Regions from separate parts of the Homo sapiens genome. Here all the other regions are linked to region 1. The links come from fine-mapping of genetic effects on gene expression. A gene starts in region 1. Each other region holds a variant in brackets. All regions are shown on one strand. Distances are from middle to middle.

Region 1 (5,072 bases):
GGCGGGACAGTGGGCACCCTTCAGTATGGATCCGGCCCTTGTCAATACAGGGAGGTAGCAAGGACCCCAGAGTCAGGGGTGGCCTCACAGACCCCACCCAGGAAAGTTTCAGGCCTGAGGCCGTGAGGGAGGGCCCACAGCGGGGGGTCTCCAGCCACAGGGCCAGGGTGCTTTTGTGGGCGCCCACCCTCCCAACACACACATGCAGGTGCACACACACACAAACCACACCACAACTCCTATGCAGGCACGCATACACAAAGACGCACTCACACTCATCCACACACAGCGGCACACAGTGTCCTGACTCACCAACCCCCAGGCTCACACCCTCCTGTTCCACTTCTTTCTTCAGGGACAGAATGACCAGCCCTAGGCTCAGGCAGGCCTGGTGCTGAGAAAAGGAGGGGCTCACCCGGGAACACGGACACCTCAACCTCGACAATGGGATCATGAAAGTCTCGGAGCCACGGTGTATCCACCCCACACCAGTAGGTGCCTGCGTCCTCCTCTGTGAGATTCTCCAGGGTCACTGTGAAGCTGAGGTTTGCAGGACTGTCCCTGATGGACACTCGGCCATTCCTTTTCCCTGCTGACCCTTTGGTCTCCACAATCTTGTCACATCGGAGAATCTGTGGTGGTCTGCACCAGAATTTGTTGAGGGTCCTGTGTTCCTTCTCATAGCGACACTGCACACTCAGGGATCCCCCCACGGGGCCCGCCACGGTCATGGGGTGGCTCAGAGGAAAATAGCCTGAAAAATACAAGCCAAAATCCTGTCTCCTTACCAGAGGGGCCTGGTCAGGGGTGCCGCAGTGTCAGCCCCTCATGGACCCTGGGCGTGTGGAGAAGGCAATGGCAGGCAGGCAGCCTTTGTCCACCCAGGAACAGGGACTGAGGGTGGGAGGCTCCCTCTGTGCAGAGGTGGGAAGGGCATGGGAAGTTTCCATGGAGACTGGAAAGGCAAGGCTAGGGAAACACTGGGTGTGTGCGGGCCTGTGTGTGCATGTGAGTGTGACTCTGTGTGTGTGACTGTGTGAGTGTGACTGTCTGTGTGAGTGTGACTGTGTGTGACTGTGTGTGCATGTGTGACTGTGTGTGCATGTGAGTGTGACTGTGTGTGCATGTGTGACTGTGTGCATGTGTGTGTGAGACTGTGTGAGTGTGACTGTGTGTGCATGTGTGTGAGACTGTGTGAGTGTGACCGTGTGTGCGTGTGAGTGTGACTGTGTGTGTGATCGTCCCAGATAAAATTTGTGATTGGATAACTTTGGCAATGACAGTCACAGCATCACCTCCCACCAGGGCTTCCTGTCTCGGGCACAGAGGAATAGGCCTCCCCCGTGCTGTGCCCTGCCGCCTGCTGTCCCCTGGTGAGGCAGCTGCTGACCGCTCCTGGGTGCTCCTTTGCCCTCCTCCCCTCTCCCTGCCCCACTCCCCTCTATGACCGCTACTCCAGCGCCTGCACCCCTCCCTGCCCTCTCCCACTCAGGACAGAGCTCCCCAAGTCCAGGGTCGGCCCACTCACCTGGGACAAGCAGGAGGAGCAGAGCTGAAGACCGCCACGAGGCCCAGGCCCTGGCAGTCATTCCTGTAACACGAATGTCACCTGCCACTGTGCAAGACCCCAGGAGGGGACAAAATGTAATCTCCTCCCAGCAGATCTGAGCTTCGCTTCTGCTTTTCTTCTGCTCTCTGCTTCCTTGTCCAGCCCTGTCTCAGGTCTGAGGCTGGAGAGGGTCAGGGTACAGGAAGCTCAGGGAGAGAGCCGCCTGGGCTGAGGCCGGTGCTGACAGCTCTGGGATGGTGCTAGTGGCTCCTCTCAACCCTGACGTCTGGCAAAGTCCAGGGTCCCTTGGGTGGCGATGCAGCCACTTCCCCACAGCCCACAGCTTCTGGCTTCAGTGTGTTACTCACACTGCAGAAGGCAGAGCCAAGCTGGGCCATTTCCTACCACATGGGCTGCTCCACCCTCTGTGACATGTCACTTCCTGGTCAGGATGGACAATCTTGTGGTTGGAGGCTAAATCTGCCACCTTCTTTAGCCTTGGAGGTGACCAGAGAGAGGTTGTGTCCCTTAATCTTCAGCTAGGTCCCCGCAGAGACCTCTGCCCCTAAGACCCCCAGCTCTTCTTCTGGCCTCAGAAGTTAGCGCTATGAACCCAGACACCATCTGCATGTCCCTTTTTGGTGCTGAGTCCCCAACCAGGTTAAAATCCCACAGGCTTGGGGAGTTTTCCTCTTGTGCCCCTGCCCCCAGACCTACACACACAGCGGCATCACCCACCCGAGACCCTCCTTTTCCATCTTGTCTTCTTGCCAAAATCCATGCCCCAGTGGGAATCAGGGCAGAGAACTGAGAATAGAGAGAGAGTTCAGACATGTGAAGATGCTGAAGTGGGACTTTGTGGAGGATGTGAGGCTGCGACTGAGCCAGCACACACCCCAGGGCACACGGAGGGGTGTTTGGTGACTGAGAGGACAGTTTGTCATGAGCAGCGGCTGCTGGTGTCTATCCTGGGTCCACTGTGATGGCCAGGGGCCTCCGCAGGGAGCAGACATGGCAGACAGGCCTTCCCAGGAGGCGGGAACCCAGGTCTATCCACACTCGGCATGGCTGGTTCTCCTGACGTGATGGGCTCAGGGTGTCTTTACCCTGGAAAGGGCAAGGAGGCTAGTCAGACACAGGATTTACCTCCTGTCTGTCCTGGAGGGCATCACCCCTTCTCCACCTTCTCATGCCTTAAGCATATTCCTTGACTCTCCCAACCCTCCTACAGATTTCTGTTCCTTTCTTCCTATCAGAGTCAATAGCACCAGTATGTGCACACAGCCATGAGGTTGAGTGGAGAGTGATGGGAGTCTGGGCAAACCTGGCACCATGAAGGGGTCTCTGCACCCTCGACCTGCCCTGTCCTCCCTCCATTTACACTCTCAGGGACACAGCATGCACTGGGGTCATTGGTGTTGATGCCCCCAGACTCACATCATGGGACTATCTCTAGCCCAGTGCAATCCCAGGGCCTCCAATTAGCCCAGTGCTCAGGTCTGGCCTGGGCCTGGCTTTGAAGTATCCCGGCTCTTTCATGGGCTGACCTGGTCTCCCCTTCTGCTCATACCCACCCCTTTCATTCTCCACAGAATCAGCAATGTGATCCCTGACACACACACATGGCCCTGGGGAGGCGCTGCTGAACTCCCAATGGCTCCTGCTGTCACAGGATGGCACCCACCTGACCTGGCCTCTGCACACAGGTCCTGGCAGGCCCCAGCACCTGGTAGGTGTCTCCAGCCTCCTGGATCCAGGTTCACACTGGTGCTGCCACCCTCCCCACTCGGGCCTTTGTCCAGACCCTCAACCTCCCACTCCTCTGCCTGGCTCCAGCCGACAGGGTTGCCTGCGTGTTCCTTGACCTTCCCGGGTTATGGTGGCTCGCTTTTTAGGGGTCCTCATGACCCATTTCACACTTCCCTCTCGTCTTCCTCAGTCTTTCTGTTGGCGAGTCAATGTCTGCTCCCATCTAGGGTGGCCGCCCCTTGAGAGCAGGTGCAGCCTCTTGTCTCATTCACAGCTGTGCCCGTTATCATTCCAGAGTCTGCCAAGTGCAGTTTAACAAACTGGCTGTTGAAAGGATGAATGGGTGAATGGATACATGACATCCTGATGTCCCACTGCCTCAGAGGACTTAGTCATCCAAAGTTGGTGCACCATTTCCTGCCCAGGCTGGGGAGGAGACAGGAAATGCTGTCTGGAGGCCCTGAAGCCACCTGACCCAGGGAGGCATCTGCCCCTGGCAGGACATGTGCACCTGCTCCTCTCTCTGCCTCAGGGCTCCTCCTCCAGGGATCCTGGCGCTCACCCCCTCCTTTCTCCTGATCCCTGCTTGCTCAGCGCCTATTAGAGGGGCTTCACCACAGTCCCCCTCAGCTCCTGCACAGCAGTCACCCCACTTCTCTTATTTCATTCCGTGACTCTTTTCATCTCTGACTTTTATATTTCTTCTGGAATTTATGCACGTATTTTTGCATCTGTTTATCATTTCTATCCCCCGCCTGGAATATGAGCTCAATGAAAACAGAGCTCCTTGCCTGGGTGTTCACGGCTGGACTCCAATGCCAGGTCAGTGTCTGATACACCAGAAGCTCCCATAAGTATCTGCTGAATGTAAAAATAGGTGAGGACCCCCAGGCGTGTCCCTCCTTGACCTGGTGGACTCATGGGGATCATCTGCCTCACAGGGGTCTTGGGTGTGGCATCCCTGGAACCGAAACGATGGTCAGCTGATAACGTCTTCCTTTGTCTGGATAAGCAGACATGGTCTGCACTAGTAAGCAAAAGACTCAGTTAACTACCACATTAAGAAGTCACGGCCCTCAACCAATTTCCATATTTGAGTCAGTTAAAAGCCACAGCCCTGGAATGAAGGGGAGGTCAGGTCCCCTTGAGGAAGGAGGAAGGAAAGGCCTGGCTACCATGCCACAACTCACACTGATAATCTTCTACCAGCCCTCCCGCAGGGACCAGAAGACACTGGCCAGGATGTGTCTACATAAGGAACGGAATTGTCAGGTTTTGGGGGGAATCCTGGATCCTCTTCTGCAGGGACCCCAGTCCTGAGAGGCCCAGCCTGGGGCTTAGTCCACTATTCTGAGCAAAGGCCTGTGGAGATCAGGGAACAATGGAGTTTTCACCCAGGTCTGACTTAGTGGGCATGATAGGTCCAGAATCTATGTATTGTCATTTCTTAAAGTTCGAAAGCATCATTGAATTGACACACTCAGCAAATGGAAGCAGCCACATATTCTGCACTCCTGGACCCGGGGAGTGTGGGCCATTATGGTGGCAAAGGTGCAGGGGAGTCCTGGACCTGCTCCTCCCTGTGAAAACGTTGAAGGAAGCAATGCCAAGCTCCTGGAGAAATGGAAAGGTGCAGAGAGGGCATCAGGCACTTAGAGGTGTTGGTGACAGCTCGAGGTTCAGCTGGCCAGGGCGTGCACATGAGACATGGAGTCACAGCTCAGGGCGTCTGTGTCCATCAGGTTCACGTGTGATTCATGGATCAGGCACAGGG
Region 2 (5,072 bases), 67 kb after region 1:
GAGCTTATCCTTCTCATAAAATGAATCATAAGCTCCTTTCTTGCTCATCATCATATTTCCCGGGTTAATATAATTAATATGGGCCTTGTTAGATTGAATTTCTCTTTCAGCATGAGTCCTGGGCCAGCCCCATCTTTCCCCTAGTCACCATGCATGATGGAGCTGGGAGCCCCACCAGAGCTCAAGTTCAGAGCACGGCAGCTCTGCCTAAGCACTCGGCACTCAGAGGGTCACTCCATGTGCTCTGGACACTGGCATCACTAGCTCAGGATGAGCTCAGGCCTGGGGGCAGAGGGGGAGCACTGGTCCAGATGTAGGTAGCAAGTGGAGATGGTGATGCTTGCTTGTGGCAGACTGTGGGAGTCCTCCCCACAAACTTTAGGGAAACAGAGTAATTGACAAACATTCAGAAAACCAACTGAGCTCATTCCCGAGCCAGGGGTCACCAGTAGTGGTGATAGCACTGTGCACTTCAAGTGTGGACAAGTATCCTTCACCTCTGTGCCCTCCATCCTGTCTTTGAAAAACGATATCTGCTCTGCCTGTGGAAAAGGTTAATTGCTAACAGGTGGTCTCAGCCAGACTTCTAAAGTGGACAGAACTGACTCTGTTGACCTTGTGCATTGGACACCTCCAGGTGGGGGAATTCCAGGAGTGATATCAGGGGCACCCACCAGCTCCTTCTCCCTTTACTGTTTCAACTCGCCCCAGAACTTTAACCTGGAGCAGCTCATCCACGGCCCACCCAGGCAGAGATGTTCTGAGCCCAGCCACACACTGCCTGGTTACAGGGAGAGAAGGGGCCTTAAAGCCAGGGAGACCCAAGGGGCGTCAGAAGACGAGAGGAGCCCTGAGCATGTGGGACACTGGGCAACTGCATGAGCAAGCTCTGCCGGGACCAAGCTCCCTTGGGGTTGTCCCAGAGAAGAGATGGAGCTCTGTGAGCCTAAAGGCTGGGGCTGTGAGGGGTGTGTCCTCAGGGAGACTCCTGTCTGCAGGAAGGAGGTAGTTATTGCCCTGGGGGAAACTGGCCTGAGAAGCATTTGTGCCAAGAAGAATGAAGGGCCAGGCTCCTCCAGAAAATTTTTTCCCTCCCTTCCTCCGTCCTTTTCTCTCTCTCTCTCTCTCTCTCGCTCTCTCTCTCTCTCTCTCTCTGTCTCTCTCTCTCTCTCTCTCTCTCTCTCTCTGAGACAGGGCTCTCTATGTTGCCCAGGCTGGCCTGGAACTCTTACGTTCAGCCGATCCTCCTGCCTCAGCCTCCTGAGCTGGGATTATAGGCACTCGCTATGGTGCCCGGCCAACTTCCAGGGAATTCTTGCCCTTGGGAAGTGGGCATGAGGGCAGGGAGGCAGGGGACTGGGGAGGAGAAAGGAGGACCCCCAAGCTGCACATTGAGGACTCCAGAGGAGTGTCCTCTAAGAGCCAGGACCCTCCTTTGAGGCACAGGAACAATAAATCCCTCCAGAGTCCACAGGTCTCTCGCATCCAGTCTGAAAGGTTGACTCCCTGCACGGGGCACTCCTGGGGATGGGGCTCTGCAGGGCTTCGGGTCAGCCTGGCTCTATCTTCCAGGAGGAGCCCACTGAGGCCTGTTCACCCAGAAGACAGCACCCAGCATGCTCAGGAGCAGGGGCAGCTTCAGAAGGACCACGAGCAGGAAGTGAGGGCTGCTGAGCCGGAACCTGTGGTGGACACGGTGAAAATGAGTCACTTCCCCGGGAGAACCCCCAGGACCCTTCTCTCCCCACCTCTCCCCATGCTCTGACTCTGGAGCCCAAATAACCCAGGAGCAGCCAGGGAAAGGACCTATGCCAGGGCAGCCCCTTCTGTGGCCCCCATCCCTCCTTCTCCCTCCATCAAGGACTGCCCGGGGGGTCTCATCAAGGAGAGGTGATGGAGTGAAGACAGAAGAGGGACCCACTTCCAGGAGTGCGCTCCACAGCACCCTCTCTGTCCCTGTCCCACTCACAGCCTCCACTTTATCAACTGACTTCTTAAAACCAGTCCCCACTCTCGCTTTTTTTA[T/C]TTTCTGAGACAGAGTCTCACTCTGTCACCCAGGCTGGAGTGCAGTGGTGCAATCATGGCTCACTGCAGCCTTGACTTCCTGGGCTCAAGTGATTCTCCCACCTCAGCCTCCTGAGTAGCTGGGACTACAGGCGCACCACCACACCTGGCTAATTTTGTATTTCGTAGTAGAGACAGGGTTTCACCATGTTGCCCAGGCTGGTCTCAATCTCCTGGACTCAAGTGATCCACCGCCTCGGCCTCCCAAACTGTTGGGATTGCAGGCGTGAGCCACCACACCCGGCCACCACTCTCACTGTTCCACTCCAGCTCCTTGTTCCCTCCCCTCAGGGTCTAGCAGCAATATCACAGCCCTTTCTGGATATCTTTGGGAGAGGAGAGAGAACTGATTCAAACCCCAGCCTGGAGCTGGCCCATCTCCCCACAGACCCCACAGACAGCTCCTGGTGGCAAAATCCCCAGCTGAGCAAAGACCTTTGAAAAGGGCCACAGAACTGGGACCCCAAGTCCGGAGCTGGATGGGGAAGGAGACAGGAAGGAGTGGGGAAGGGAGGAGGGGCTGCACGTCCACCTGAACTCAACCTTCGACCTGAGTCCCAGTAGCTGCCCCATAGGGAAAGGCGTTCACAGCACAAGTGATATTTCCCACTCAGCATCCACATGCAGCCTCAGAGAGTATGAGAATCAGGACCAGAGATGGAGAGAAACAGCAGACAGTGACGATCTCAGGTCACGGTGCGCCACCCCCACCCCCCAGCTTCCACCCCAGGGTTGCTCCCTCCATGGCCTCCAGGCCCTGCGTGCTTACCCTGAATTTTGGGTCAACACCTCCCCGGTGCTGAGGTTTCGCCCAGGGTTCACCACCAGGAAGATGGGAGGTGTGGCTGGATGTGTGGTCCTCCTTGGGGTTGTAATTGCTGTTGGAGATGAAAATGATGCATCAGCCGTGCCTGGGCTCCCAGCCATGCACAGAACACCCGTATGGATGTCATACAGAATCACCCACTCACAGAAGAGGCTGGAAAGATCTTCTGAAGCCAGATCCAGGGCACCTCCTGGGTGAAACCCCTCAGGGACAAAAAGAGCCCTTACCAGAACCAGCCATGAGAGTCCCCTCCAATAAGTGCCAGGTCTTTCTCTGCATCTCAGAGAAAGACTCTTACCACTCTGCCCACTCTGCCCTCATCCCACTCTGCCTGGGGTGAGGGCAGGGGTCTCTCTGGGCTTCCGCAGCCAGATGTGGAGTTCCAGGAGGAGGAGGGGAAGGAGGAGTCTAAAGGAAGATGGCTCAGCCTGTGGCCCAAGAAGCCTCGTAGAGACCATGAGAGGGGGCTCTGAGCACCCTTCATGTGGACACTCTTTTTTTTTTTTTTTTTTTTGAGATGGAGTTTCACTCTTGTTGCCCAGGTTGGTTGGAGTGCAATGGCACAATCTCAGCTCACCACAACCTCCACCTCCCGGGTTCAAGCGATTCTCCTGCCTCAGCCACCCAAGTAGCTGGGATTACAGGCATATGCCACCACGTTTGGCTAATTTTGTATTTTTAGTTGAGATGGGGTTTCTCCATGTTGATCAGGCTGGTCTCGAACTCCTGGCCTCAGGTGATCTGCCCTCCTTGGCCTCCCAAAGTGCTGGGATTACAGGCGTGAGCCACCGCGCCCGGCCCATGTGGAAAGGCCACTGTAGGCCACCCCTAGGGAGGGGATAGGTTGACACTCGGCTCCTCCTAAGGACTTCAGGTGACCACCAGACTATTGACATAGTCTACTCCCTCATTGCCACTGGACTCCCAGCTCATGATCTCCCTAAAGCAGTTGTCCTGGAGGCTCAGCCCTTCACCGGTGCCCGACACAGGCTCAGTGTGATCCGATAAGCCGCGTTCAACCTCTCTGTTGCTGGAGATTCGTTGATGGACGTGGCATGAGCCCCACCCCGTTGGAGGGGCAGAGACACATAAACAGACGGACTCACTTCCGCTGGAAGCAGCCCTGGGAAGGAGCCCCAGCAGGTGCAATGGGAGCACAGGGGAGAAGCCTAATCCACCCCCAGGCCAGCAGTGAGGAAAACATGGGCGGCACCTAGCAGAGGCGAATGCCGGACCATGGGATGCTTTTGGGAAGTGAGAGACATGATAGAGTGTGAGTCTGAGGACAGGAGATGGTGTGGATAGCTAAGGGGCAGGGGGCAGGGGAATTTGGTTCAAGAGGGATGGGGAGGCAGAAAACCACAGGACAAGGAGCCAGCCCCAGGAGGATCACCCTTGGGCAGGATGGGGAAGCCTGTCCTCAACCCGAAAGGGAAAGGGGAAGAATGAGTGTAGATTGCATGAAAGTTTGCAAGTGGAGAAGGAAAGAAACTGATGTCCTGTGTGTTCTCAGGAAGGTAGATGTATGGGAGAGTAATGTTGGAAACTCTTAACTTCTACTGGCAGCCACAGGCACCATTTTCTCACTTTTTTTCCCCAGCAGCGCTAGAGCAGGTGGATTTTAGACAGGGCGACCAACTTTCCCAGGACTTTTCTAGCCTTAGCACTGAAAATCCCACATTTGGGAAACCCCTTAGTCCTGGGCAAACTGGGATGATTAGTGACCTTTATTTTAGGATTGATCCAGGGATGAGGGTTTTGTCAGGTAGATAAGGAAATGGAATATGGGAGTTATGAGTGCTGCTAAGAGAAGAAAATGTCAGGCTGGGCATGGTGTCTCACTCCTATAGTCCCAGCACCTTGGGAGGCCAAAGCGGGTGGATGACTTGAGGTCAGGAGTTTGAGACCTGTCTGGGCAACGCGGGAAGATGCTGTCTCTACTAAAAAATACAAAATTAGCCAGGCATGGTAGTGCACACCTGAAGTACCAGCTACTCAGGGGGCTGAGGTGGGAGGATCACGAGCCCAGGAGGCGGAGGTTGCAGTAAGCCGAGATCGCTCCACGGCACTCCAGCCTGGGCAACAGAGTGAGACCATGTCTCAATAAAAGAAAAAAGAAAATGTGATCTATTGCAGGGGCTCAAAGTGGTCTAGGAAGGAAGTGAGGTCAGAACGGGAGTGA
Region 3 (5,072 bases), 21 kb before region 1:
GCATGTAGTGGTTCCTGGGGAAGGGGATGCAGTGGTCAGAGCCCTGGGCATCCCCAGGCCATGTCACTCCCATCCCCTGACCCTGTGAGCCACCAGCCAAAGCCTGTGACCCTGGGCCGGGCAGCCCCACTCTGAAGATTCCTGTAAACCTCCTCCTTGGTTCAACCTCAAGGGGTCCTCCAACAGTCACCTTGGCTGGTTTTGCACGGGGCCCATCTTCCTTTCTAACATCACCTTCTGGGACCCTCTTTGCCCAAAGTACATCTCAGCTCAACAGAAGCGCCAGAGGTCACCAAATACAGGTTGTGTTTCCTGCCTCTGTTCCTGCTAATGCTAGCTCCAGGCTGGTAAATCACCCTTCCTGTTCTGTGTCCCTTGATGTCTTGCACCACAGAGGGTGGTATCTTATCTCCCCCTGGCACCCATTAGGCCACCAATGCAAGGTTGACTGATTGACTGGGAGAATGATGCTCACTGAGAAGAGTTCTGCAGAGCGGTTTTCTGGTGAGAGCTAGAGTGGGGAGATGGTGGATTGCAGTGATGGGGGCAGGAGAGAGATGGAGGGTGGGCTTGGGGCCTTGACTCTGGCTAGAACAGGTGCTGGCATTTGGTGACAGGCAGGAGTTCCCAGGCTTGGCTTCCCCTTAGGAGGGACCCCAGGTAGGGGCAGGAGAAAGAACCACATGACTCACCTCTTGTGGGAGCCGATGAACACTGCCATATTGCTGTTGGTAGGTGAGCTTGCTGTTGTGGAAGCCGCTCCCTCTAGACACAGGCAAAGTCAGCCATGGGTTATTAGCACAGTTGGGAGCTCATGCATGGGTCACAAAGCCACGCGACCCTGCCAGCCCTCACCAGAAGACCCTTTTCCCTGGAGTAGGAGGATTTTTCTCTCCTGCTACAGCCCCTCATGCTTCTACTGAGTCACTTCAATCTCAACACACAGACATTTTTCCTCATCATGTTCAGATGTGGCAAGAAAAATTAAAAATTAAACAGGAGTAAACACTGTAGTTTATTCTGGGAGAGAGAGGTTTTTTCATACTTTCTTTCCACCTATCCTGCAAGTGGGACTATTGGATGGGGAAATAAATTTCTGGTCTTTTCCACTGGAGTGGTGCCTGAGCAGGGCTTAAGGAGAGAAGATTCTGGAAATGGGCTGTCCAGAAATTGGGGTAGTCCAGAAAAAGGGAAAGGGGACTCCAGAAGGCTCATGAAGAAAAGGGCACACTCCAGTTAACTAGAGAACATCGACTATGAGAAACGGAACATTTTTAGGAGCAACCATATAGGCAATTTGTTGGGGGCAGTCTGGTCAGGGGGGCCCTGAGCCCAGCCCAGCACTGAGTATCCATGACCCAACAGTGATCTTTTATTTCAGTCCTCGGCCCCAGCAAATTTTTCTCAAAGGTCCCAGGCTGTCCAGGCACGGTGGTTCACGCCTGTAATCCCAGCACTTTGGAAGACCAAGGGAGGCAGATCGCTTGAGGCCAGGAGTTTGAAACCAGCCTGGGCAACATGGTGAAATCCCATCTCTACAAAAAATACAAAATGAACCAGGCGTGGTCATGTGCCCCTGTAGTCCCAGCTACTCAGGAAGCTGAAGTGGAAGGATTGATTGAGCCCAGGAGGTCGAGGCTGCAGTGAGTCAAGTTCACCCCACTGCACTCCAGCCTGGGCTACAGACTGAAACCCTGTCTCAAAAAACAAACAAAACAAAATAAAACAAAACAAAACAAAAAAGTCCCAGGCTTTGGCCACACTAGGTGGGCTCCTGTCTGAGCTGCAGGTAATTCCAATCACAACAGTTCCTATGGAGCCCCTGATCGTTTTACAGGCTGGTACCCCTGTAGATCCCCCACCCAAGACTCCGGAACATCTCTCTCCCTAAAGCTCCACACTGGCCACTGTTTTTTGTCTCTTTGTACCGCCTGCATGTCTTGCTCAATCCCCTCTCTGCCCCCATAGATATTCTGGGTTTCCCCTACTTGGCAGCCCTGGGGAAGTCTTGCTTGACCCTTTCTGGACTCCTCTTTACTCAGCTGCAGCCACTGTGTCCATGTGCCTCTTTGGTCCCAACCCCAACAGTACACAGGCTTGTTCTAAAGCCGGCATTGTCTATTTCCACATCACCACCAAATGGACCCGAGTGGACACTGAGCTGATGAAGTACTGAGTAGGGGTGTGCGGGTGGAAGTGGGGGTTGGGGGCTGCTTCCCAGACTCCAGCAACAGCAGCAGGATGACCCCAGAGTCTATCAGTAGAGTCCAAGGCATGGAGGAGAAGCCAGGGCACCCAGAGTGGTCCCTGACGTTGCCCGTGATGGAAGCCATCCTTTTGCTTTAAAGCGTCCACTGTCACCCATGCACCTCCCTGGGGCTTTCTTACCCCGTGCTCATCTTACACAGCCAGATAAAGTAGCGGAGCAGGTGGCTGGGGACCTAGAGAGGAGGGTGTTGTAAGACACCCAGAGCTACTCTGGGTTGGTGCAGTTAGTGGGACTCAATACTAGGACCCCCTGGGCAGCTCTAGGTTCCTTCTCTGC[C/T]ATGTCATGAGCAGGGCTGGGCCACCAGTCACCAAAGCTGAGGTCCCCATTCCCACCCCCATCCCAAGCCCCACCTGGATTCCTTGGAGAGACCTCAGGGACTGAGATAGCAGAGCGATGCTGGCCACCACTCTCCCTTAGTTTCTGTCACCTCCTTCCCAGTCAGTTTGTCTGCCTGTCTGTCTGTCTGTCTCTCTCTCTCTCTCTCTTAGGCTCACCATCATTCCCTTTCAGCCTTGGAGGGGAGCAGGTAAGAGCACTGACTTTCCCAGCCCTGAGCTCCAGGGCCTCCTTGTGTAGATGAGAAAGTTCTTACCTGGGTCAACGATCACTTTCACTTGAGTCCCAAGGTCAGGTCCTCTTCTTTCAATCCCACACCAGTAAACATCTGCGTCATCTCGCCTGAGCCCCTCCATGGTCACAGTGAACGTGCGGTCTTTCTGATTGTCCTTGATGGACACACGGTCACTCTTCTCTCCTTGCTCCGACCCTCTGGTTTCAATGAGGATCTTGCATGTATCCCAGCGCACCCCTCGGCACCACCACTTAATGTAGGTCTCCCATCCTTGCTTATAGTGGCATTGAACCGTCAGGGACCCCTGCTCTGGGGCTCTCACAGACTCTGGGCCTTGGATGGAGAAACAGCCTGGAAAACAGAATCCCAAGATACAGCTCATTGCACCGGCACGAACCCCTGCTCTGGGGCTCTCACGGACTCTGGGCCTTGGATGGAGAAACAGCCTGGAAAACAAAATCCCAAGATACAGCTCCTGTTGCCTGAGCCAGTTTGGTGTTTAAGAGTCCCGAGTGTGTCTCTAGCACACCCGATTCCTCATCCCCATCTCCCTCTCAGTCCATTCCCCCACCAGCTTCTAGACCTGCTTAGCATGTGACACCATGGTCTCCTACCACCTTCTTTCCTTGTCCTCTCAATGCTGTTTTCATCGGAGCCAAATATTTAACAACCAGCCCTCTGGGGGAAAAAATCTCTGGTTTAGGAGCTGGGCACGGTGGCTCACACTTGTAATCCCAGCACTTTGGGAAGCCAAGGTGGGCAGATCACCTGAGGTCAGGAGTTCGAGACCTGCATGGCCAACATGGTGAAACCCAGTCTTTACTAAAAATACAAAAATTAGCTGGGCGTGGTGGCAGTCACCTGTAGTCTCAGCTATGCGGGAGGCTGAAGCATGAAAATTGCTTGAACCCGGGAGGCGGAGGTTGCAGTGAGCTGAGATCGCACCACTGCACTCCAGCCTAGGCAACAGAGTGAGACTCTTGTCTAGAAAAAGAAAAAGAAAAAAAATCTGGTTTTAATATTTGCCAAATTCCATAGTGTAAATACTCCCACGGTGGCAGATGTCAGGTAATCCATGTGATGTCACTGGACACAGAGCTGGGAAAAGATGTCCCAAGCCAGCTCCTGTGAGCCAGCCCCAGCACACTGCGGGGGTACCCAGGGTTCCCTCTCCAGCCTTCATCTTGTCTCACCTGACAAGCCTCCATGGAGGGAGTCTCTCCATTTCCATGGCTTTAATGATTACCTGTTTCCTGATGATTCCCAAATCCATATTTGCAGCTCAGACTCCCCTTAGCTAGCCCACCATTTACAAAGACACACTGGATGTCTCCACCCCAGATTCCTTCGTTGCAGAATTGAATGCACTTCCTCTCCCACCCTGAACTACTCTTCTTCAGTATTTTTTTCTAGTGGAGCAATTGGATGTGGCAAGAGTAACAAAGGCCTGGTGAAAGCTGAACAGGTTAGAGGTGAGCATAATCAAATGGCAGTCCGTGCCTCCGCTGATTGACTCCAGTTAGGCTGTGTGTAGATAGGCTCTTTCCTTGGCAATGACACGGGTTTCTTGATCACGCAGAAGTGGATAAACAGGCAGAGAATCACAGGGGAAGCCTCTCTTGACTGTCTCTTGGCCTCAGAGCTTCAGGCCCAGGCCAGGGGTCTCTGCAGGGTGGAGAAAGCCAGGTCTATTTCTCCAGGCAGATGCCGCCTCCTCACAGCTTGGGCCTTCTCCTTGAAGCTGTGTTAGTTTTCTTGAACTTTGCATTCGTGGTTGGTAGAATAATGTCCCCCATAGCTGTTGGCATCCTCATACACAGAACCTGCGAATATGTCCCCTGACATGGCCAGAGGGACTCTGCCGATGTGATGAAGTTAAGGACCTTGAGACAGGAAGAATATCCCGAATAATCTCCATGGATATTCTAAGTGAAAGAGGGTTGAGGGAGAGTCCAATTGGAAGATGGTCTGTTGCTGCTTTGAAGTGGAAGAAGAGGCCACCGGCCAAGGAAAGCAGATGGCTTCTAGAAGCTGGAAAATGCAGGGAAACAGATTCTCCCCTAGAATAGGGGTTCCCAACCCCAGGACAACAGACTAGTAACAGCCCATGGCCTGTTAGGAACCGGACCTTACAGCAGGAGGTGAGCGGTGGGCAAGCAAGCGAAGCTTCATCTGTATTTACAGCCACTCCCCGTTGTTCAAACTACCACCTGATCTCCGCCTCCCATCAGA
Region 4 (5,072 bases), 35 kb before region 1:
TCTAGTTCTTTAAGATGCATCATTAGGTTGTTTATTTGAGGTTTTTCTACTTTTTTTGATGTAGATACTCAATACTGCTTTCACTGTATCCCATAGATTTTATTGTGTTGTGTTTCCATTTTCATTTGTTTCAAGAAATTTTTAAATTTCCTTCTTACTTTTTTTCATTAACCCACTAGTTATTCAGGGGCATATTGTTTAATTTCCATGTTTTGTATAGTTTTCAAAATTCTTCTTGTTATTGATTTCTAGTTTTATTCTTTGTGGTCACTGAAGACACTTGATATGATTTCAATTATTTTGAATATTTCAAGACCTGTTTTGTGGCCTAACATATGGTCTATCCTTGAGAATGATCCATGTGCTGAGGAGAAGACTGTGTATCTGCAGCTGCTGAATGAAATGTTCTTTTAAATATCTATTAGGTCCATTTGGTCTATAGTACAGATTAAGTCCAACGTTTCTTTGTTGATTTTCTGTCTGGATGCACTGTCCAATGCTGAAAGTGTAGTGTAGAAGTCTCCAGCAATTATTGTATTGAGGATATATTATTTTAGCTATAAAGATATTTGCAATATATATCTGAGTGCTCCACTGTTGGGTGCATATATACTTACAATTGCTATATCCTCTTGTTGAATTGATTTCTTTATTATTATATAATGTTCTTCTTTGTCTCTTTTTATAGTTTTGTCTTAAAATCTATGTAATGTGATATAAGTATAGCTATTCATACTCTTTTTTGGTTTCCATTTGCATGAAATATCTTTTTCGATTCCTTTAATTCACCTATTTATGTCTTTATAGGTGAAGTGTGTTTCTTGTAGGCAACAGATCTTGGGTCTAGTTTTTCTTTTTAATCCATTCAGCTGCTCCATGTCTTTTGACTGAAGTGTTTAGTCCATTTACATTCAATGTTATTATTGATAACTAAAGACTACTCCTGCCCTTTTGTTACTTGTTTACTGGTTGTTTTCTGGCCTTCTCTTCCTTCCTTCTTTCTTTTCTTCTTGTCTTCTTTTTACTGAAGCTGATTTTGTCTGGTGATATGTATTAATTTCTTACTTTTTATTTTTTGTGTATCTGTTGTATGTGTATGTTTTTGAGTTGATATTACCATGAGGCTTGGAAATAATATCTTATAACTCATTATTTTAAGCTGATGACAACTTAACACTGATTGTAATAACAAGCTAACAAACAAGCAAATATAAGGCTAATAGAAAAAAACTCTACACTTGAACTTCATCCCCCCACTTTTTAATTTTTTGTTGTTTCTATTGATACCTTATTATACTCTCAATGTCTTAAATGTTGCTTTAGGCTGGGTGCGGTGGCTCACACCAGTAATCTCAGCACTTTTGGAAGCCAAGGTGGGCAGATCACTGGAGCCCAAGAGTTCAAGACCAGCCTGGGCAACATGGCAAAAACTTGTCCCTCCTAAAAATACAAAAAATAGCCGGGTGTAGTGGTGTGCACCTGTAGTCCCAGCTACTCAGGAGGCTGAGGTGGGAGGATCACTTGAGCCAGGGAGGCAGAAGTTGCAGTGAGCCAAGGTCATGTCACTACACTCCAGGCCTGGACAACAAAGTAAGACCCCATCTCAAAAAAAAAAAGCATAGTTATTATTTTTTATATATTTTATAGGTTCTTCTTTTAGTCTTTCTACTCAAGATATAAGTGATTTACACACAATTTCAGGGGTTAGAATCTGTTTTTCTGTGTACTTACTATTAATAGTGAGATTTGTACCTTCAGATGATTTCTTACTGCTCATTAACATCCTTTTCTTTAAGATTGAAGAACTCCCTTTAGCCTTTAGCACTTCTTTCTTTTTTTATTTTTATTTATTTATTTGTTTTAAGATGGAGAGTCTCACTCTGTCACCCAGGCTGGAGTGCATGGCACAATCTCAGCTCACTGCAAACTCTGCCTCCCGGGTTCAAGTGATTCTCGAGCCTCAGCCTCCCAAGTAGCTGGGATTACAGTCATGCACCACCATGCCCTGCTAATTGTTGTATTTTTAGTGGAGACAGGTTTCACCATGTTGTCCAGGTTGGTCTCAAACTCCTGACCTCAAGTCCCTTTAGCATTTCTTATAGGACAGGTCTAGTGTTGATAAAATTGCTCAACTTTTGTTTGTCTGAGAAAGTATTTCTCCTTCATGTTTGAAGGGTATTTTCACTAGATATACTATTCTAC[G/A]ATAAAAGTTTTTTCCTTCAACACTTAAATACCACTCTCTCCCAGCCTGTAAGATTTCCCTCAAGAAGCCTACTGCCAGAAGTTTTGGAGCTCCCTTTTATGTTACTTATTTCTCTTCTCTTTCTGTTTTTAGGACCCTTTTTTTTATCCTTGACTTTTGGGAGTTTTTTTATTAAGTGTCTTGAGATAGTCTTATTTGGGTTAAATCTGCTTGGTTTCTGGAACCTTCTGGTATTTGAACACTGATATCTTTATCTAGGTTTGGGAAGTTCTCTGTAATTATCCCGTTGATAAAACTTTCTATCCTGATCTGTCTCTACCTTCTCTTAAGGCCAGTAACGCTTAGATTTGCCCTTTTGAGACTATTTTCTAGATCTTATAGGCATGTTTCATTCTTTCTCATTCTTTTTCTTTTGTCTCCTCTGACTCTGTATTTTCAAATAACCTGTCTTCAAGCTCAGTAATTCTTTCTTTGGCTTGGTCAATTCTGCTGTTAGGAGATTCTGATGCATTCTTTGGTGTGTCTATTTCATTTTTCAGCTCTGGAATTTCTGCTTAATTCTTTTTTATTATTTTGATCTCTTCATTAAATTTATGTGATAGGATTCTGAATTCCTTCTCTGAGTTATCTTGGATTTCACTGAGCTTCCTCAAAACAGCTATTTTGAATTCTCTGTCTGAAAGGTCCCTGTTTCTCCAGGATTGGTCCCTGGTGCCTTATTTGGTTGTTTGCTGAGGACATGTTTTCCTGAATTGTCTGACTGGCCCTGTGGCCTGAGTCACATTTCAGCTGAAGTCCCAGGCTGCTGCCAACACCTCCATGGCCTGGCAGTCTTCCACTGGAGTTCAAGTTACACTGCTCACCAGAGAATCACACGCATTCAGTGTGTGGACTCCATCCTCACAATCAGATGCTCAGTGTCCAAAATGCTGGGTAAGAAACATCCTGAAGAACACAAATCTGAGATACAGCCTCTTCCAGGCCTGCTCCAAGGCTCCAGACCAATGCATGAAGCACAGCCTGAGTCCACGTGCCTGAGGGAACAGACCTCCAAAGCCTACATTGGGAGCTTCCACCTGGCAAGGAAGGTGTGCTAAGGGCAGAGCTTCCGGCCTCCCTGTTATCTCAAATGTGGACCTATCACTGGGGCCCTAGTACTGGGCCCAATACTTGCCTCCACCCTTTGTCAATGCGAACATCCTTCCTCCTGGGGACAGAGATTTAGAGGTTGACTTTAGAAAAAGCCACTCTCTATAGATATTTTGAAGCAGCAAGTCCCCCCAGCTTCAAATTTTGTGCTGGCTGAGGCAGCCCAGCCTGGTTGGTGACTAGAATGGCCTGAACTGGGAGTCATGGAAACTGACTCAGAGTCATGGAAAGTTGGGGCTGAAAGGGGAAGAAGAGGTCATGCACCATCCGTCTTGCAGCTATAAAAACTAAGGTTTAGGTTGGTGAGGGGGTGTACCCGAAGGATGACTCAAAGGGTACTTCACGGGTAAAGGAACTCAGCTCAAATAAGGTGACTCAAGTCTATTTACAGCCTTGTCCAGTGTGGACTCAAGAATAGCCTGGCCTACCACCCTGAGCTGTCAGGGAGGACAGATGAGATGGACATTGTGAAAATGGGGTACTGCCAGCCTTTAAAATGCGGCGAGTGCACAAGTCACGCAGTGCTGTTATCAACTCATGATATAAGTTCCTCTTCCCTCCCCCGACTGCCTGTGTTGAGTCTCAAATTCATCCCACTGCAGGGAGGTCAGAAAAAGTTCAGAACTTCTTTCTGACCTCCCTCTTGTGGGATTTAATGAGGACATGAAGTGGTGACATTGAGGTGGGAGTTAAGGAGAATGTGCTGGGCTTGGGGCCCAGCAGATGGACATATGTTACCTGTGCCCCTGGGGATGATTCTACCTTCTAAAATGGGCCATGGAAACCTGGTTTCATGTGGTTGGGTCAATCCCCCCAGTGCTTCTGAGGTTGATGAGTTAAACGATGCAAAGGCCATGGTTGGGAGATCTCCTCTTGGGATACGACTTTGGTGAATTTACCTGGGTCTGGTCCTCATTCCTGCAAATCTAGAACCCGACCACCATCCAGACAAGAAGAGAGACTGAGACCCTACAATAACTCAAGTGATTTATTTTGGGGACACTCCTTTCCAGGAAGCTGAATGCTTGTGACCCTCATCTGTTTTTCTGATTTCAGCTGCCTGGGAGGTTGCCTGAGCAGGCAGGAGGCAGCTCATGGGCATGGACTTGAACTGATGCCTCGAATGGCCTGCCTGGCCTTTGTCTTTCTTTATGTTCCATTACCAAATATTCTGCTCCTGGAATCACAGCCTTTGTTTTTATTTATTTATTTATTTATTTATTTATTTATTATTTTAAATGTTTTATAGAGATGGGGGGTCTTGCCAGTACAGGCTGGTCTCAAATTCCTGGGCTCAAGCAAACATCCTGCCTCAGCCTCCCAAAATGCTGGGATTACACAACAATGCCCTAAAATAAGACTTTCAGGTGAAGCTTATGCATGTCTTTCCTGCTTGGTGAGTAGGGTATGATTAGAGTTGGATTTTTCCATCCCATATTCACTCTACAGAATCAATTTAGTGTTCTGCTTATCTATGGGACATTGATGTCATGTGATGGGTGATGTCATGTGATGGGTGATGTCATGTGATGGGTGATGTCATGTGATGTGTGATGTCATGTGATGGGTGATGTCATGTGATGCATGATGTCATGTGATGGGTGATGTCATGTGATGGGTGATGCCATGTGATGGGTTATGTCATGTGATGGGTGATGCCATGTGACAGGTGGTCATGTGACAAGGTGATCCTGTGATGAGTGGTCATGTGATGGGTGAT
Region 5 (5,072 bases), 610 kb before region 1:
CCACTGGGCCACAGCAGCCGGTCCATGGACTCCAGATCTAGAACCCATGCTGGGTAGAAACCCCTTCAACTGCTCAGGCAAGTCATTGGATCTATCTGAGCCTGACTGGATTTTTCATTTGCAGGAGAAAGTTGACGAATCTGTCCCCATGTTCCTCTCAAGCCCTAGTTATAGGACTTCTGAGGTAAAGGACAAGTTGGGAGAGTATCGTAGTTGGGCTGTTCTGGAAAGGGATGTTAGTCCTCCTGGAGCTGGTTACTAGTACAGGATTCTTGGGGTTACAAATGATGGAAAATCAAGTCTAACTCAAGAAAATTTGCTTCATGCCACCAGAAAGCTGAGAGTATTGGTTTTCTAATTGCTGTTGTAACAAATTACCACAAAGTGAGTGGATTAAAACAACATAAAGTGTTATTTTGCAGCTCTGGAGGCCAGAAATCCAGAAATGGGTTTATGTGGCTAAAACCAAGATGGTGGCAAGGCTGCATTCCTTCTAAAAGATGTAGGGAAGAATTCATTCCTTGCCTTTTGGGTTCTGAGAATGCCTGAAATTCCTTGGCTCACAGCCCACTTCCAGCAATGGCATAACTTTGACCTTTATTTCCATGGCCACATCTCCCTCCCTGACTCTAACTGTTCTGCTTCCCCTTGTGATAACACTGAGCCAACCCATATAATCTGGGGTAATCTCCCCATCTCAAAATTCTTAATCATATATGCAGTACCCCTTTTGTCATGTAAGGTAGCATATTCACAGATTCTAGAGGTGAGGATGTGGATGTCTTTGGGGGCCATTATTCTTTCTGCCAACTTTGGGGAGCAGACTTCAGGTGCTCCTGAAGATCCAGCACAAGGAAGAGGGTGCAAGTGGCTCAAACAGTATCATCAGGGTCTTTCTTTCATCTTTATCTCTGCAGTCTGCTTCCTTCATGTTAGTCATATTCTCAAGGCCATTTCAAATAGCTTTCCCCCTGCTAGCCAAGAAAAATGCTGCCTCTAGCCCTCAATTATGGCATTTCAGATTAGTAGATATTAATAGTTTGGGAAAAAATAATCTTTCCCCCTCTATCTTTCTCTCTGCCCTGGTCCAAATACCAGTCTCTGTGTAGATCCCTTGAATTAACAAAGGGATGCTTGGGAAGAAGGGCACCGGGGAGATATACAAATCCTTGAGACAGCTAGGGTGGGGGTTCATCAACCTAATTTGTAGATTAATCAGCATGTACCCATTTAGTAATCCAAGCTGGTGATGCCAGACACATCAGCTACAAAGTGCTCTAGCAGCAAGCCTGGTCATTATTTAGTCTCTTATAGATCAGGCCAACCACACAGAGCATGTGCAGGAATCCCAGCCCTGCTCAGCCCAGAGCATTGACATTTGTGGTTAAGCAGGGCCCCATGGAAGCCACACACCCGTCCCCCTTGGTTTCACCACGTGTCTCTGTAACTTTGAGGGAAAAGGACCCTCCCTCCTGGGATGGGATGATAATTAAGAGTAATTTCAGTCCTGTTGGGCTCCAGTTACAACAATTACAGGGTTCTGGATCAATTAATACTCACATTTGCATGGAGAAGATGGTGAAATTTAGAATGTAGACCCCCCATTTAGGAGCTATAGCTAGGGTGACCCTACAGCCAGGTGTGCTAGGGACAGTCGTGGTTTGCACCTGAATTATTCATAGTTCTGCTCTTCACTCTCAAAGTGGTCCCTGTTTAAATGATCAGTGTTACGGTTACCCTAATGTTAGTAGAAGTAGAAAAGAGTTTATTTTCCCCTTCTACTGTTTCACTTACCCCTGAACCAGGTGGGGGACTCTAAGGCAGCAGCTGGAGAAGACCCCCAAATCACACAGGTACCCCTCTTCCTTGTGCCGGCTGTAAAGCCAAGGAATAAACCAACCCTTCCCATTGCAGGGAGTGGGAAGCCAGTGATGTGGCTTCCTAGTAGCTGTCCCCAGCCTCTAGACTGTACCGTCTGGATCTGCAGAGGCCTGTTCACTGTCATGCCTTCATGCAGATCTCTGGGGTAAGTGCTCTGTTGCTGTAGGAAAATAACTTACAACTTTTCTTTGAATGTATTTACATGAATGCCTATACCTTTATTTAAATGCATAAATGTTGTCATTACATGATTCATGTGTATGTGTGTGTGTGTGTTTGTGCAGACTCTTAGTTTTTTTTCCTGTTAGTTTGACTTTCCTTGACACCTCTCCTCTGTCCTCCACCCATAACCACTAGAAATTCATGCTAATAGCCTAGTAGGGATCCTTCCACATTTTTCTTCATGATCATATTATCCTGTATAAATATATACATACACACACTACATGTGGTAGACATGTATGTACATACATGTATGTAACTTTTTATACACACCCACATGCATTCACTTATACACATGTGTGCACTTATACATGTATAGCCAGCCTTTTGTCATTATTTGTTTTGCAGAAATATATGATATTCAGTTTCTTGCATCTTGTTTTCCTCACTCAACAATACCTTGGGGAACTCTCTCTCTGTCCTCCAATATTGCTCTAATTGTTTTCAATAGGGCATAATATCGCATGGTATAAATGTACTATAATTTATGCACCCAGACCTCAAGAGTGACTGCTCACTTTGTTTTCATGGGAGAAATTTCCCACATTCACCAAATATAAATGTGTGACACTGGCCGGGCGCGGTGGCTCACGCCTGTAATCCCAGCACTTTGGGAGGCCGAGACGGGCGGATCAC[G/A]AGGTCAGGAGATCGAGACCATCCTGGCTAACATGGTGAAACCCCGTCTCTACTAAAAAAAAAAAATACAAAAATTAGCCGGGCATGGTGGCGTGCGCCTGTAGTCCCAGCTACACGGGAGGCTGAGGCAGGAGAATGGCGTGAACCCGGGAGGTGGAGCTTGCAGTGAGTCGAGATCACGCCACTGCACTCCAGCCTGGGCGACAGAGCGAAACTCCGTCTCAAAAAAAAAAAAAAAAAAAAAGTGTTACACTTTTGCCCTAATGCTCCTGACTCACATCTGATTCAAAAGTCTTTAAAAACACATGTCGATTTGAAAAATATAATCAGCTGCTATTTTTTCCAAGATGTCACACTGACCCACCATCAAACTGTCGGCACAGCTTGGTACACTTGTTCCCTACGCAGAGTCACAATCAGCCTTTTGTATTCTCTGGTGTTTGTTGTCTGATTGCAATTCTGAATTGGGGTGACCATCAAAACTGGGTGCCTACACAGGAGGCATCTCAATGTATTAGAGAGGGGCCAGTCTTTGGAACAGACAGACCTGGGTTCAAATTCTGATAACCATCACCTATAAGCTGGGAGATTTGGATAAATGCTCACCTTCCCCCAGCCCCTGTTTTCTTTGTCTTTCAGATAGAAATCATGATACCAACCACATAGAGCATTAAATGAGATTATGGGTGCACAGGGCCTGGTCCCAGGGGGCCCACTGCCCAGGTGGCTTTTCCCAACCACAAATTATGAATCATGTTGGACTTGAAGGGGAAAAGTTCAAATTGATCAATAGCGATGTCAGGGGCAAACAGTCCGAGTCAGATAAGCAAACAGAAACAGGTTGTTTTTGGAATAATTGGATGCCCTGTCTTTGTTTGCAGAGCAGCGTGTGCACCATGGATGTTTAAGGAAGCTTATTGCCAGCAATGTCCAGATGACTGGTGAGCCACAGCAAGAGAGGGGCCTGGCTGCGGGAGGGATCCAGAAAGCAGGGAGCTGATGGAGGTTTAGGATTAGGACCTGAGGAAGGGATGCTAGGGCAAGGATGCGGGAGGTAGCAGTGGCCTGAACCCTCCTACACTCTGGCCACAGACTTGATGTGGCAGGAGTAGTTGGGTGGGCATTTTTCCGCCTGGCAGCAGAGGTCGCTTTCTGTCCTCTCCCCACACCATACATCACACTTTCCAACTCCACCATACTCAACCCCCTAAGAAGAAGAAAGAGGAAATGAGCTCCACAACACAGGTCTGTTACGGACTGAATATGTGTGTCCCCTCAAAATGCATATATTGAAGCCCTAACACTCCAGTGGGATGGTATTTAGATGTGGGGACTTTGGGAAGTGATTAGGGTTAGATGAGGTCACAGGGTAAGGCCCCTATGATGGAATGAATGGCCTTATAAGAAGAGGAAGGAAAAGACTAGAGAGCATGCATGCGCTGTCAGTCTCTCTCCCTCCCTCCTTGCCACGGGAGGACACAGCAAGAAGGTGGCCATCTGCAAGCCAGGAAGAGAGGCCTCACCAGGACCCACATCAGCTGGCACCTTGATCTTGGACTTCCAGCTTCTAGAACTGTAAGAAATAAACGTCTATGGCATTCTGTTATGGAAGCCCAAGCTGACTGAGACTGCAGCCCTGCCTTTCCTTTTAGGGTACCCAAAATGGAGTCCTGTGGCCAACACAAGCCGTGTGCCTCATCTCTTGCCATGTTCCAGTAGGGGGATATAGCTGTGGCCAAGACAAGTGGGGAGGTATCTGGGGTGCTCACAGGCAGGGCCTGGAGAGGAGCCCTCTTCTGGGCAACTTACACAGGACTCTGAGATACTCCTCAGCATCTCCCCTCCTTGGTGCTAGGCATGGTGTCTTGCACACAGTGGGAGCTTTATATGTGTTTGGTGAGACATTGATTAAAAATAATAGACAGCGAATACACGCAGATGTGGAGAGAGACGGAACCAGCAGTTGCTAGATTGGAGGAAAGAGTGTATTCCCGCCTCAGCCCCGCCCTGTCCACAGCTATGAATTAATCTGCGGTGGGGAGCGGGATTCCTTCATTAAAATCTCCAAAAAGGGAGTCATATTAACAGCCAGGCACACCGTTCTTTTCCCTCAAGGTAAGAAGATTCATGGCTCAAACTTACATTTTATCACGCACAACCGAATAAAAATGATCAATTTCCCTGCCCGCCTTACAGCATCCTTCCACAGTTATTAAAGTCTCTAAAAATGTTTTCCTTAAAAAAAAAAGGTTAAAAGAAAGAGAGGTGCAGAGAGTGCAAACCAAGAAGAAGCTGGGAAATGCTGCCTAGCTGAGGGCTATCCATCTTGTCAG
Region 6 (5,072 bases), 430 kb before region 1:
CCCAGCTCTTCAGAGTGGAGCTGGGAAGAGCTGCAGCTGCCCCAACGCTGGGAAGTCACCAGTCCTTAGGGTTGCTACGTTTAGCAGATGAAAATTCAGGATGGGCCAGGTGTGATGGCTCACACCTGTAATCCCAGCACTTTGGGAGGCCGAGGCAGGTAGATCACCTGAGGTCAGGAGTTCGAGACCAGCCTGGCCAACACGGTGAAACCCTGCCTCTACTAAAAATACAAAAATTAGCTGGGCGTGGTGGTGGGTGTCTGTAATCCCAGCTGCTCCGGAGGCTGAGGCAGGAGAATCACTTGAACCCGGGAGGCAGAAGTTGCTGTGAGCCAAGATCACGCCACTGCACTCCAGCCTGGGTGACAGAGCAAGACTCCATCTCAAAAAAAGAAAAAAAAAAAAAGACATAACAGCCAGGTAAATCTGAAAAACAGCTCTAACTGCCTAACTTGTAATGTTTTGGTGAGAGACAGCTAAATAATATTTAGGGTGTTCCAACAGGGTCAATATGGGTCAAAGGACAACATCTGTTAGCTCAGAAGAAATCTGTCAGCACAGAGCATATGCGTTGGCCGGGCACGGCGGCTCATGCCTGTAATCCCAACACTTTGGGAGGCCAAGGTGGGAGAATCGCTTGAGCACATTTCAAAAATCAGCCTGGACAACATAGGGATATCCCTGTCTCTACAAAAATAAAAAAAAAAATGAGCCACGCCTGGTGGCACGTGCCTGTGGTCCCAGCTACTTGAGGGGCTGAGATGAAAGGATTGCTTGTTGAGATCAAGGGTGCAGTGAGCCGTGATCACGCCACCGCATTCCAGCCTGGGAGACAGAGCAAGACCCTGTCTCAAACAAAAAAAATGTGTATACACAGGGCCCCTGGCCACCGTCCCCGCTCGAAACCCCACGCAAGTGTGTGGGAAGTGCCCTGCCCCACACACAGTAATCTGTCTGCTCCTCCCAGGGTGAACTCCGTATGAATGACAGCCTGGCAGTCTGTGTGTGCTTCCCCACTAGGGTAGGGGCCCAGAAAAGGGCTCTCCAAAGTGGGCTGATAACATTTTGGACTGTTAAGTCTTTTCATCCTAGGGGGCCTTCCTGGTGGAAGCAGGCTTCAAAGAAAGATTTATGTACACCACAGAGCTCCAGCATCTCCTACATTTAAAAGTCTGGGACACTCTCAAAGGACCAAATAAGTTGCATTGGAACAAAAGTGACAAACAGGAAGGCGGGATAGGTAGGGGGCGGGTAGTGCCATGGGGCTTGGACACTGTGGCTGGCAAGTCATTTCACCCTTCTGAAACTGGTTTTTTTAATTTTATAGTTAAAGGATCTTGTTATGTTGCCCAGGCTGATCTCAAACACCTGGGTTCAAGCGATCCCCCTGCTTCGCCTCCCAAAGCGCTGGGATTCCACTGGCCGGCTTGAAACCCTCTTATTTGTGGGATGAAGACTGCCCAGCCCACAGGTTGTTTTGAAGATCACATGGGGTGATGGAAATAAAAATGCTTTCAAATAGCAAGCTGCGGCCGGGCACAGTGGCTCACGCTGTAATCTCAGCACTTTGGGAGGCTGAGGCGGGTGGATCACGAGGTCAGGAGATCTCTCGAGACCATACTGGCTAACACAGTGAAACCCCATCTCTACTAAACAAAAATAGAAAAATTAGCCAAGCGGCTACTCGGAGGCAGAAGAATGGCGCGAACCCGACAAGCGGAGCTTGCAGTGAGCCAACATGGCGCCACTGAACTCCAGCCTGGGCGACAGAGCAAGACTGTCTCAAAAAAAAAGTAAAAAAAAATAAAAATAGCAAGCTGCTACAGAATGGAATATAAGCTCCTAATAAAATTGGACATGACCTGACACCGAGTACCAAGCTAAACACTTCACGTGCTTTATCTCAGCGCCTCTCAGTTAATCTCATCGTCACATGCCTATGGGGCCAATCCATAACTTCTTCACTTTGCATCTGTGGAGCTCAGAGGTCTTGTACGGCCTGGCCCCACAGTCGGTAAATGAAACACAGACCCTGGCCGGGTGCGGTGGCTCACACCTGTAATTCCAGCACTCTGGGAGGCCAAGGCAGGCAGATCACGAGGTCAGGAAATTGAGACCATCCTAGCTAACATGGTGAAACCCGGTCTCTACTAAAAATACAAAAAAATCAGCCAGGCATGGTGGTGGGCGCCTGTAGCCCCAGCTACTTGGGAGGCTGAGGCAGGAGAACGGCGTGACTCCGAGGTGGAGCTTGCAGTGAGCCGAGATGGAGCCCCCACACTCCAGCCTGGGAGACAGAGTGAGACTCTTGTCTCAAAAAAAGACCCTGATTCCAAACCCGGTGTTCATTCATTCCTTGTTCAACAACGATTCAGCAAATGTTTGCTGCCATCAGCAGAGTTCAGGGTATCAAAAAGAAAGCAGTGGATGGGAGACACCCACTCTTGCTCTCATAAAACTCAGTCTATTAGAACCATCACCACAGGAGAAAGGATAATTTTCCAAGCATTTACAAGGCACCAAGGACCGTGCTAGGTACTTTCCATGATATAGGAACTAATGTTATTCCCATTATTTCAATGAAAACCGAAATTCAAAAAGGC[G/A]AAATGATAAACCCAGGTCACACAGCTACGGTGGAGCTTGGATTTGAACCCAAGTCCTGGACTCCAGAGGCCTTATTCTCCCTTGCTGCTACGCTAGAGAAACAAAAAGCTTTCATTGTGATGATTTAAAGCTTAACCCTCACTATAAGGATAGTGACCCCATATATTACCATGTTGTGTCTGGAATTTGTGGATTCTTGGTCTTACTAACCTCAAGAATGAAGCCGTGAACCCTCGCACTGAGTATTACAGTTCTTAAAGGCGGCGTGTCCGGAGTTTCTTCCTTCTGGTGGGTTAGTGGTCTCGCTAAGCTTCAAGAGTAAAGCTGCAGACCTTCATGGTGAGTGTTACAGCTCATAAAGGCAATATAAACCCAAAGTGAGCAATAGCAATATTTATTGCAAAATAGTGCAGAGTGAAAGAACAAACCTTCCACAGCACAGAAAGATAACCAAACGGGTTGCTACCGCTAGCTCCGGCAGCCTGCTTTTATTCTCTTATCTGGCCCCACCCACATCCTGCTGATTGGTCCATTTTACAGAGAGCCCATTGGTCTGTTTTACAGAGAGCTGATTGGTCCGTTTTGACAGGGTGCTGATTGGTGCGTTTACAATCCCTGAGCTAGACACAAAAGTTCTCCACATCCCCACTAGATTAGCTAGATACACAGTGTCGATTGGTGTATTTACAAACCCTGAGCTAGACACAGAGTGCTGATTGGTGCATTTACAAACCTTGAGCTAGATACAGAGTGCCGATTGGTGCATTCACAATCCCTGAGCTAGACATAAAGATTCTCCAAGTCCCCACCAGATTCAGGAGCCCAGTTGGCTTCACCCAGTGGAGCCGCCTGCCCGCCCGGCGCCGTTCGCCCGCACTCCTCAGCCCTTGGGCGGTAGATGGGACTGGGCGCAGCGGAGCAGGGCGCGGCGCTTGTCAGGGAGGCTCGGACCGCGCAGTAGCCCACGGCGGGGGCGGGGGCGGGGGCGAGGGCAGGGGCGAGGCTCAGGCATGGCAGGCTGCAGGTACCGAGCCCTGCCCCGCGGGGAGGCAGTTAAGGCCCTGCGAGAAATCGAGCGCAGCGCCGGTGGGCCAGCACTGCTGGAGGACCCGACGCACCCTCCGCAGCTGCTGGCCCGGGTGCTAAGCCCCTCACTGTCGGCCGGCCGCTCCGAGTGCGGGACCCGCCAAACCCACGCCCGGGGAACTCTACCAGCAAGCGCTGTGCGCAGCCCCGGTTAGCCCCCGTGCCTCTTGCTCCACACCTCCCCGCAGCCTGAGGGAGCCGGCTCCAGCCTCCACCATCCCAGGAAGGGGCTCCCACAGTGCAGCAGCGGGCTGAAGGGCTCCTCAAGCGCGGCCACAGTGGGCGCCGAGGCCGAGGAGGCACCAAGAGCGAGCGAGGGCTGTGAGGGCTGCCAGCATGCTGTCACCTCTCAATGTCAGGTTTTCAGAGTCTAAGTTTGTGAAATTTAGAAAGAAGAGGAGAATCGCTGGGTATAGATGTAAAACAATGCTTTGTAGGAAGGATCTAACATTTTCTTTCAGGATGAGGGCAGGAGTGCGTATCTGAGGCTTTGGCTCAAAGACAAAGAGGGAGAGAGAGGGCTTCACCTCATGATCTACAACATTTCCACGATGTACCACCGCGTCCCGGCTCCCCGATCCCCTTGGAAGAATTCGTTCTCTCGGTCAGAGCGACCTCGCACGCTGATCGGTCGAGGGACCCGCCATGCTCAGGGCTCAGCACCCCCGAGTTAAGGAGACAAGAGCAGCCATCTCCCGGCCCCCAAGCACCCGGACTCACACCCGCCTCTGCTGCGACTTCACCAAGGAAGGAAAAATGGCTCGAAATGCCTGTACATTAAGAAGCGTATAATTATGCATAATAAAAAGACGCCGGCCCTTGTGTATATAAACACAGCTTTGACTGAGTGCCTTCTCCCAGGCAGCCCTTCTGGCTCTCAACAGCAGCAGTGGAACATCTTAAACATATGGTCGCCATCCAGGCCTCCAGGCAGATCTGAACTGGGGAGGGGGTGGGGGCAGGGGCAGGCGGGAGGTGGAGACGGGACGGGGATACAGGAAAATCAGGAGATGGTTGTTTGGGGAAGAGGGTTACACGGAGAGCTGGTGGGCCAGGGGTCAGACATTTACAATCAGGACATAATCTGTGACCTGCCACCCCAAGTTGAGCTGTCTTTCTCTCTCCCTCCTCTGCCCCAGGCTCAATTTGCCCCCAAAGACAATAATAGGGAGTTCTGCCACCTGTCTCCGGGGAGCGGGAAGGAGAGCTGCTGAGTGGCAGGAATATTTCCTGGTTTTGATTTGGGGATCCTCTCATTTCTGTTTGCACTGATTTCAGCACCTGTCACCTGCAAGGCGCTGAGTAGGCAAGGAGGGAATCCCCCAGTGGATAAGCCACTTCCGATGGTGTAGCAGTTCAACAGGTGATCAAAGACACCCCCA

Evidence for each region.
Region 2: its variant is fine-mapped to the expression of CD300C in whole blood (INTERVAL, PIP above 0.99).
Region 3: its variant is fine-mapped to the expression of CD300C in whole blood (TOPMed, PIP above 0.99).
Region 4: its variant is fine-mapped to the expression of CD300C in whole blood (TOPMed, PIP above 0.99).
Region 5: its variant is fine-mapped to the expression of CD300C in whole blood (INTERVAL, PIP above 0.99).
Region 6: its variant is fine-mapped to the expression of CD300C in whole blood (INTERVAL, PIP above 0.99).

The regions. Positions count from the first base shown.
Region 1 is chr17:74,544,194-74,549,265 of GRCh38, forward strand. CD300C (CD300c molecule) reads right to left here and starts at 1,922. Exons shown (of 4, transcript NM_006678.5): 1 at 1,529-1,922; 2 at 416-754. The coding sequence starts at 1,589. It also overlaps a transcript of LOC107985074 not described here.
Region 2 is chr17:74,611,092-74,616,163 of GRCh38, forward strand. It overlaps CD300E (CD300e molecule), which reads right to left. Exons shown (of 4, transcript NM_181449.3): 3 at 2,834-2,942; 4 at 1-1,682. The coding sequence ends at 1,562. All of the region lies in intron 3 of LOC101928343 (a long non-coding RNA gene), which reads left to right. Among named protein-coding and RNA genes, the nearest start is that of CD300E, 10 kb to the right of the region's middle. The variant T/C (reference allele first, on the strand shown) is at 2,026.
Region 3 is chr17:74,522,887-74,527,958 of GRCh38, forward strand. It overlaps CD300LB (CD300 molecule like family member b), which reads right to left. Exons shown (of 4, transcript NM_174892.4): 2 at 2,862-3,191; 3 at 693-765; 4 at 1-14. All of the region lies in intron 1 of LOC107985074 (a long non-coding RNA gene), which reads left to right. Among named protein-coding and RNA genes, the nearest start is that of CD300LB, 6.1 kb to the right of the region's middle. The variant C/T (reference allele first, on the strand shown) is at 2,546.
Region 4 is chr17:74,509,135-74,514,206 of GRCh38, forward strand. No RefSeq gene overlaps it. Among named protein-coding and RNA genes, the nearest start is that of CD300LB, 20 kb to the right of the region's middle. RefSeq lists an enhancer at 3,333-3,582. The variant G/A (reference allele first, on the strand shown) is at 2,203.
Region 5 is chr17:73,933,530-73,938,601 of GRCh38, forward strand. LOC107985081 (a long non-coding RNA gene) reads left to right here. Exons shown (of 3, transcript XR_001752999.1): 3 at 1-117. All of the region lies in intron 5 of LOC105371888 (a long non-coding RNA gene), which reads right to left. Among named protein-coding and RNA genes, the nearest start is that of LINC00469, 110 kb to the left of the region's middle. The variant G/A (reference allele first, on the strand shown) is at 2,740.
Region 6 is chr17:74,109,832-74,114,903 of GRCh38, forward strand. It overlaps LINC02074 (long intergenic non-protein coding RNA 2074), which reads right to left and starts at 3,068. Exons shown (of 5, transcript NR_184085.1): 1 at 2,815-3,068. The variant G/A (reference allele first, on the strand shown) is at 2,604.